Linked DNA regions of Homo sapiens: all the other regions are linked to region 1. Evidence: fine-mapped expression QTL. A gene starts in region 1. Each other region holds a variant in brackets. All regions are shown on one strand. Distances are from middle to middle. Region 1 holds the start of TMEM144 (transmembrane protein 144). Region 2 overlaps LOC105377509 (a long non-coding RNA gene). Region 3 overlaps TMEM144 (transmembrane protein 144).

The links. PIP is the estimated chance that this variant, and not a neighbour inherited with it, causes the effect.
Region 2: its variant is fine-mapped to the expression of TMEM144 in whole blood (TOPMed, PIP above 0.99).
Region 3: its variant is fine-mapped to the expression of TMEM144 in lung (TOPMed, PIP above 0.99). The same link has a PIP of 0.9 or more in fibroblasts and nasal epithelium.

What each region holds. Positions count from the first base shown.
Region 1 is chr4:158,208,948-158,211,767 of GRCh38, reverse strand. TMEM144 (transmembrane protein 144) reads right to left here and starts at 1,282. Exons shown (of 13, transcript NM_018342.5): 1 at 1,182-1,282; 2 at 194-315. RefSeq lists enhancers at 1,350-1,439, 1,340-1,894.
Region 2 is chr4:158,010,542-158,013,361 of GRCh38, reverse strand. All of the region lies in intron 1 of LOC105377509 (a long non-coding RNA gene), which reads left to right. Among named protein-coding and RNA genes, the nearest start is that of GASK1B-AS1, 160 kb to the left of the region's middle. The variant T/C (reference allele first, on the strand shown) is at 1,390.
Region 3 is chr4:158,253,126-158,255,807 of GRCh38, reverse strand. TMEM144 (transmembrane protein 144) reads right to left here. Exons shown (of 13, transcript NM_018342.5): 13 at 392-2,364. The coding sequence ends at 2,281. Among named protein-coding and RNA genes, the nearest start is that of TMEM144, 44 kb to the right of the region's middle. The variant G/A (reference allele first, on the strand shown) is at 1,485.

The DNA of each region.
Region 1 (2,820 bases):
TGTGTATTTGAAATTGTGTGGACTTTCTTAAAACAAAAACACATTGCTATTAAGAAAACATCCTCTATAGGGATGTGGTTGAGGAAGACACACTGAGGCACATTTCAACATTGACACATTAACACTATTCAATAAAAATAATTATTATTCTACTGTTAGGCTCAAAGAGAGGTTCAGCCCTGCAGTGACTTACATGGGTTATGGCTCAAGGGTCAGCTGAGGCAGGTGCTTGCTGCTAAGATAACAGAGGTGCCAAGATAACAGAGGTGCAACAGGTCAGAGATGCAGGAAGTGTCTTGAAAAGCTAACCTATGACTAAAAAGACACATGACTGGGTGATAGCTAACACATCATTTTCTCCCCATTTTAATTCACAACAAGCAAAGCAAAACAAAACCTTTATGTGTACATTGATAGAAGAGAATGTCTAACCTTCAAGAGTGGCAAATTATTTTATTGAGAAGGCTCCACAAAGGCCCTACACCTCTGAAACGGAGAGACTAATTTGACGTGCTAATTAGAGTGCATGAGGTGCATTTCGACTACTGAATAAACATCAATCAGTTATTACCTATAGATAAATGAAGTTTATTGCATGCAGCTCTTGTACATTTCAGAGCATGTGATCTTATTTCATTGTGAATTGGCAATAACTTACTGTCTTTAAAAAGGCTCTACCGCTCTCTAAAATAATGAAATTTTTGTGGAAAAGAAAAGCAGTATCACTCCATCCAGCACATTTTTCCCAATTCTTCCTGCACAAAACCTAAAAAGTCTCAAACATTATTTTAATGTTTTCTTTTCAGCGTTCGCTGATATTTTGTCAAACTATATTAATTCATTTTTATTTTATTACTTTTGTTTCATTTATTAGTAAATACTTCTCCTTTACATTTTTCCTAGTAATTTAAACTTCTACGCAGACTTTGAAAAAATTCGTATTTGGTATGTTCTGATCAATACTGCTTGCTCCACTCCAACTAAAATTTCATTTTTAGTTTCATGTTGATTTTCCCAAATCTCCAGGCAAGTACCGCCTGTCTTTGGGCTAAAATTAACAGTGCTTGAATGTATTTATTCCGAGCCTTGATTTTTCTTTTTAACCATGAGCACGTTTCTGAAAAATCATGAGACGCTCCCCTGCAAAGCGACTTGGCTTTCCTTTGAGTGGCTGTACTCACTGCGTTCCGGGCTGGCGGCTGAAGCTCCTTCCTACTCAGCGCCGGCGCGATCCGCCCACTACGTGCCAGTGTGGAGCCGGAGCCTGACTCATTCCCTCTACGTGCTGGGGGCGGCCTGGCCAGCCTTTACTTTCTGCGGGGACAATTTCCCATACACCGGCCGGGAGGAGAGGGGAGGGCTCTAGCACCCGTGACCCAGACTCCCGTTCCCAGGGTGCTCGCGAAGAGCGCCAATCCAGCCTTGACTTCCTGCTGGGACGTTTACCTCCACTTAAGGAGGGTGGAGAAAGGAGGGCTTTAGCACCGGTGACCTAGAGGCCTTCATAGGACAGCAGGTTGGGGAACGCCTTCCTTCAGTTGCTGTGCTGGACTGAATTGTCAGGTGGCTCAAAAGGAGTCGTCAAGCCCTGGGTCGGTCAACCAGGAAACTAGAAGAGTTTTGTGTATTTCAAGAGGTGATTATTCAGGAAACTCTCAGCATGTCACCCTCTCTAAGTGTCACAGAGGGAGGTATTATTTGTGCAGTTTATGGATAAAACAAAAGTCTGAGGAATTTCACACCATTGTAAAAGATTATCTCAAGTGAATTTTTCCACTTGGTATTAAGAAATTCATCTGCACCACTGACGTCATTAACATTTCTTGTGACATTACAAGATTTCACTTGTAATCACTAATTCTTTGTAGATGCACCTAAGCCATTTATCTGTACAGGCCATTTATCTGTATTTTTTTTTTTTAAGACGGAGTCTCGCTCTCGTCCAAGCTGGAGTGCAGTGGTGCAATCTCGGCTCCCTGCAACCTCCGCCTCCTGGGTTCAAGCGATTCTCCTGCCTCAGCCTCCTGAGTAGCTGGGACTACAGGCACCCACCACCACACCTGGCTAATTTTTTTGTATTTTTAGTAGAGACGGGGTTTCACCGTGTTAGCCAGGATGGTCTCGATCTCCTGACCTCAGGTGATCCGCCCGCCTCGCCCTCCCAAAGTGAGGGAGTCCTCTCAAAAAAAAAACAAAACAAAAAAAACATCTCTTCATGTGGGTTCGCATACACCAAAGGATGCAAACTTTAAGTTGGAAAGGGGAAGTGTAGGTTCTGTGCTAGTCTGAGTTCAAAGAAGCCTTCTCTGAGGAAGTGCTATTTAACCCGAGACCATCCAGTGGTTGGTAATGGGTGTAGCATTCACAGGAAGGAGAAAACACAAGGACTGTTAAAATATGACATTTCCTAGAAGGAAGTTCTGCCTTAAACATTAATCACATCCATAGACTATCATGTCAGATGAGCAGATGGGAAGGCAAAATAACATTTCATTTAAAGAATTAAAGCAGCAAAGCTTTTTCACTTAAGGAAGAGGATTAATTTAGCAGTTCAGAAAGATTTTGAAGAAATCAGTTCCCCTTTCCACACATGCACACCTAAGACACACACACATACACAAACTTGCTTCCAAAAATATAGGGCCTAAATCCAACCTAGAATTGTTTCACTTCATGGTCACAAGATCATGTGGTTTATTCTTGCTTCACTCACATGGAGAAACTGAAGCTTGTGTCAGCATTTGCTGAGAATTTCTAAAGTCTAAAAGTGAGTTGGGGGCTGAATTAGGCCTGAGAAGATTCATTAGGGATATGCTAGGC
Region 2 (2,820 bases), 200 kb after region 1:
ATTTAAACAAAATTGAATTTGGAGTTTGGATGAAAAATTTACTCCATTTTCTTACAAAAACCAAACTAAATCAAACCATGTTTTCATTTTGTTCACCATCCATTGAGAACATTATGGATTTTTTCTCTCTGTTTTTTAAATTTTATTATCGTATATTAAAATTTGGTTTTAAAGTTTGTTTGTTTTTTTTTGTTTGTTTGTTTTCAGATGAGTTTGGGCGCATTCAGGGCAGTATGACCATAGCCTGGTTTTTTTATTTTCAGAAACAATGCCTTTAGTCCTTTAATTTCCTCTCTACTTGCTCATCTGACATGTGTTCATTGCTCTCATTCTCCTGCTTCTCTAAATAATATTAAGTAACAGAAAATGTGCTATTTAATAAAATTAAAATGAAGTTTATTAACATATTTTTCAGAATACTATATATATTCTTAATATTTGTTTGTGTCCAGAGAATTTTTACTTTAATGTAATATAAACCTTAGGACTAATTGAATTGGAAGTATATTCTAAAGGCTACTTACTCCACCATTCTATGTTAACTCACAAACTATATAACAGAAAAAAATCATTTTTTTCTTTATGATAAATCTTAGATTAATTTTGACAAGCTCAGCATGACAATCAAACTTGCTGTACAACTTTGATTTATGTGAAAACACACACACACACATACCATCCATCAACTCTTAAAAATTTCTTCTGATTGATTGGCTAGAGAATGAAAGATTTACAGAAATATATTAGACAAAAGAACAAGCTATGAAGCTAAAATACTAATTACTAATGACAGAAGGGCAATAACATTTATTGGGAAAAGTATCTCTTCCCCTGAAGCATCTTAAAGGTTGTCTATTGATGGCTTCAGTGCTTTTCAAGGGTTAAACAAGACAATCAAATTAAATTCATATTTGCATATATGTAAGTATGGTTGAACAGTATAAATAATGCCACCTTTATGTCTAATAAATTATACTACATGAAAAAGATGGACTGCTCATCATCAACATATTCTAATTAAATCTCTTCTGTGAACTGAAGTGTGCAGTTCACAGTATGCATGAAAGCTTTACAGGCTTTCAGTTTCTTAAAGCATTTGAGAAGGATCATAAAACTGTAAACAAACAGAGTCCTCTCTAAATAACCAACTTAAGTCTCCTATCATAATTAAAATAATTTTCTAAAAGCACATGATCCAAATTGAGCCAAGAATTAATTTAAAAAATAAACAGAAAATAAAATAATATTAAATATGAAACTGAAACTATCTACAAAATCACCTAATAAACAGAAATATGTTATATGATGACAGTGAAGTTTACATATTCTTCCCACTTTGCTAGAGATCAGTGCTTGTAGGGGAAGAAAATTTGAGAATTATCAGGATGA[T/C]ATTTCTTCTTATTTCACCAGGTACATGTTAACATCTCAGTTTTCCTAAACTAAATGTATGCATTTTTCATTATAAAGTACCTTTACTCACTTAAAGCTTCCAGTTAGCAGAAAGTTCATTTCTATGTGGCTTTGGGATTTGTACTCTTTATTTGGGCTAAAACCTTGTGAAGCAAAGACAGCTGAGGGGAAAGGACAAGAAGCTACATGGAATTCTTCACCTTAAGGCTGGAGTCAGAGAGGAAGGGAGTGCCAGCGACCCCAGACGTGTGTCAAGGTGTTCCCCTGCCAGAGACTTGGAGCCAACTCCAGCCACTACCTGGTGAGATACTGTACTGCCACTGCAACAGAACCATCTCCAGGATCCACTTCACTTCTTTACAACAGCTTGCTCTGTGACAAACCCAGTGCCTAATCCTACCTCCCTGCACAAAGAAGATGATTCAGGTGCACACTCTTTGCCAAAAACTTTAATATTGACAGTAGTCTTTATGTTGTGTTTCAGTCCCACTGATAAGTGCAGGAGGCAACTTGAGAAGAACTGATTGTGTATAAACTAGAGCCTTGGTAAATATATCAGAATATCAACACTGTTATAGCTGGAAGGCACTGGCTTCCAAAAGTCTTGGCCACATCCCCTAGAGGGGCACAGGAATGATGCAGGGGTGGGGAGGGGGCACTAGGATGGGGACCACAGAGAGTTCTGCTGTCTTTGGGTTCCACATGTCAAACAAGCACCAGCTACAAATGACAGTTCCAAAAGACTCAGCATTGGTACATTGGAAAATACCCAATAAATGTGGTAAACATAAAAAAAGTGAAATTTGACCATTTATCAAAGTTATTTGTGATTATCAAAACAAAACCCCCCAAATTTAAAATGGCCATATTTAAACCATAGACTGTAGTGACTGTACAGGCTGCAATGATAGTGAATGAATATTTTAAATTCAGTTCTGGTGACAACTATGACCAAAGGTGATATTTTCTAAATTTATTCCTTTAGAAAATAAGTGATACAATTTCATTTGTTTAATTTTTTACAAAGGTAGAATTCTTCATAATCGGGAAATGCTATTGCCTTTTATTCTCTAAGAGTTAAGCAATGGCCATAAACTTCAGTTCTATTTGATCATTTGTTCACATCTGCATGTTAACAGGTTGGCTTGTGATGAACCGTATTCAGCTAAAGCCACCGAAGTACTGCAATATAGGGCAAAACAAATCATACAGTGTTTTTAGTGGGCTGTCAAGATACTTCACGTTTTTTTCAAGCATTTTCTACTGCATTATATAATGTTTCCTCTAGATATTTCAAATATTGCACAGTGTAAGATCCCCATATTCACTCTTCTCAAAACAGACCTTGGCAGGCCAGACATGATGGCTCATGACTGTAGTCCCAGCACCGCGGGAGGCTGAGACAGACGG
Region 3 (2,682 bases), 44 kb before region 1:
CCTAAAAGTCTCAAGAGAGTTAGGCATTCACTTCCTAAGGTGAGCAAACAAAATGCAGATTTGGCAACTGCCCATTTAGACTAGCCTCTAAATAATAAGTTGCTTTTTGGTAACCATTTTGAAAAAGCTTGTTTGGTACCAGAAACTATATACTATATAGAGGTCTGTGTGTGTGTGTATATATACACACACACACACACACACACACACACACACACACACACACATATATATAAATGTGTATATATATATACACACACATATATATAAATGTGTATATATATACACACATATATAAATGTGTATATATATACATATATAAATGTGTGTATATATATATACAAAGTATATATAGGGATATATATAAATTATATAGAGGTAATAAGACTGATTTTTCATTTTTCTTCTGAAACTGCTTTACTTCACATTTAAAATTTTGCATATAAATTGGAAATCCCAACTAAAGAATAATTAAAAGTTATCCAATATAAAATTCTAAAATATATTTAAATGAGAAAAATAGCTTTTGTATCACAATTTATTCAAAGTTTATCAGCATAATTTAATGACATTTCAGGTTAAAATTAAAATGAGTATAAGAAGTTATAGTCAAATATTTATTTGTATTAGCAATTCAATAAACAAACAGAAGCTCCATCACTTTTAAGTAGTATTCATTTAGAGGAGTAATAATTGTTTGGATGGGAAGGTGGTGAGCTTAGTAGCTCTTACATGGTGTTCTCCAATCTACAAAAACTTTTTTCCCCTTCAAACAACACATAATAATAAAGCTAACAATTATATAGTGTTTGCCAAGTACCAGATACTCATCAACATACTTTACAGATTTGAACTAATTTCAACCACACAATAACCATGTGAGGTAGATGCCATCATAAACTCCATTTTGTTAATGAGGGGCCTGACACAGAGGGCTTAGGAACTTGTCCAAAGCCACACAAATAAAATGAAGCAGAGGTGGGATTTAACCCATGCACATTGACTTCAGAGTATACACACAAATAAAAAGCTGTTTTGTTTCTCCTGCATAGCAAAGTAATAAACAGTACTATCAGGTGGGAATGGGTAAAATTTACATTTGAATAGGGGTTTCGTTATCTCAAAGTTTTGGAAACAATTGCAACAAACATTGTACTGGCAGTTCTGTTTCAGTTTTCTTTTTTCTTACAAATTTAAATTAAATTTCTTTTTTAGAGATGGGACCTTGCTATGTTGCCTAGGCTGGCAGATTTGCACTCTTGGGCTAAGTGACCCTCCTACTTCAGCCGCCCCAGCAGCTGGGATTATAGTAGTGCGCCACCCTGCCTGGCTTAATTTCAGTTTTCTTAAAAAAAAAAAAAAAAAAAAAAAACTAGCATGCCTGTCATTTTATTTTGCCTACTGGAAACCACCAGTTAAAACAAGAAGAAAACAGGAAACCTCCAGTTAAGAGGGTTTTAGAAAAGTGTATTTCAGAAAAAAAA[G/A]TTGTACATTCAAAAGAGTGGTTGTTTCCTTTAAATTGTTACTGATAACCTACAATCTCACTTTAGCAACATATCTGTGTGTATTTATGTACGTGAATATACTTGTGTATGTATGTATTATGTTATGCACATTTTCTCAATGATGAAAAATTTTTGTTCTCTGAGAATGGACTTTATCTGGCGATAATCAAAAGCATTATGAGCTAAAATGGGTAGATGATGTAGAGTTGGGCGATATTAACTTGAAATAAACAGAAGTTTTGGCTAACAATAATAAAATGGCCTTTTTAACATTTAGTTACCAACTATGCATTTACTTTATGAAACAAAGGATCCAAATATCTTTGGAATCTAATTCCATTAGAAGGTAAGGCTCTCCCTCCTCGCCCAAGGTATTTCTGCCTCACTTCACTGGGGTAATAGGTGAGAAATATGGACTGTAACTTCTTTGTATATGGACTCTATACTGTGTTCTAGATTATGCAACACTAGGTACATACTGTGGTAAAAAGAGCATCCTCGTATGTAATGCTATAATAATGTAGACATTTTAGTCACCCAGTAAAGTACTACCTTCATAAACAGTTCATCAGAAGAAATTTTCATTTTTATACTTGAATGAAACTCAATCTTCCTTCATTCTCACATTTTTGGGGAAAAAAATCATTTACCCACTCCAACAGTGGCTGAGATCCATTTGCTATATGAAAATGCACTCTTTTCTCAGCATGATCTCTCCGCTGTCCGATAGACGCGTTCTCTTAACTACTGCTGCCACCTGCTGGTTTTGTCATTGTTAGATTTTAGAAAAAGCAGTGCATAAGGCTCCAGTCAAGATGATGCAAAATGCAAGTATCATTAATAGGTAGTTTTGTAGACCCTGAATAAGAAAAAAGAATAACAGTGATGAATAAGGCCTGAATCAATTACACAAAATGGACAGACTCTCAAGATTGCTAGGGACCTAACCATCTGCTCTAGCCGCCTGTACCCTTTTTTGCTACCCCTTCCAAGTAATCAGGTTCTCACAAACCCCTGCAGAGCCTTATGAATTCACCCATTCCGTAAATAAATGTGGGCACCCACTAAGCTTCAACATGTACCTTTATGCAAACAATCATATAATATGGGAGACAGGAAGTAATCACAGAAAAGAATGTTATTATGTGAGAGGGGTGTTAATAATAAAGCAAACCAC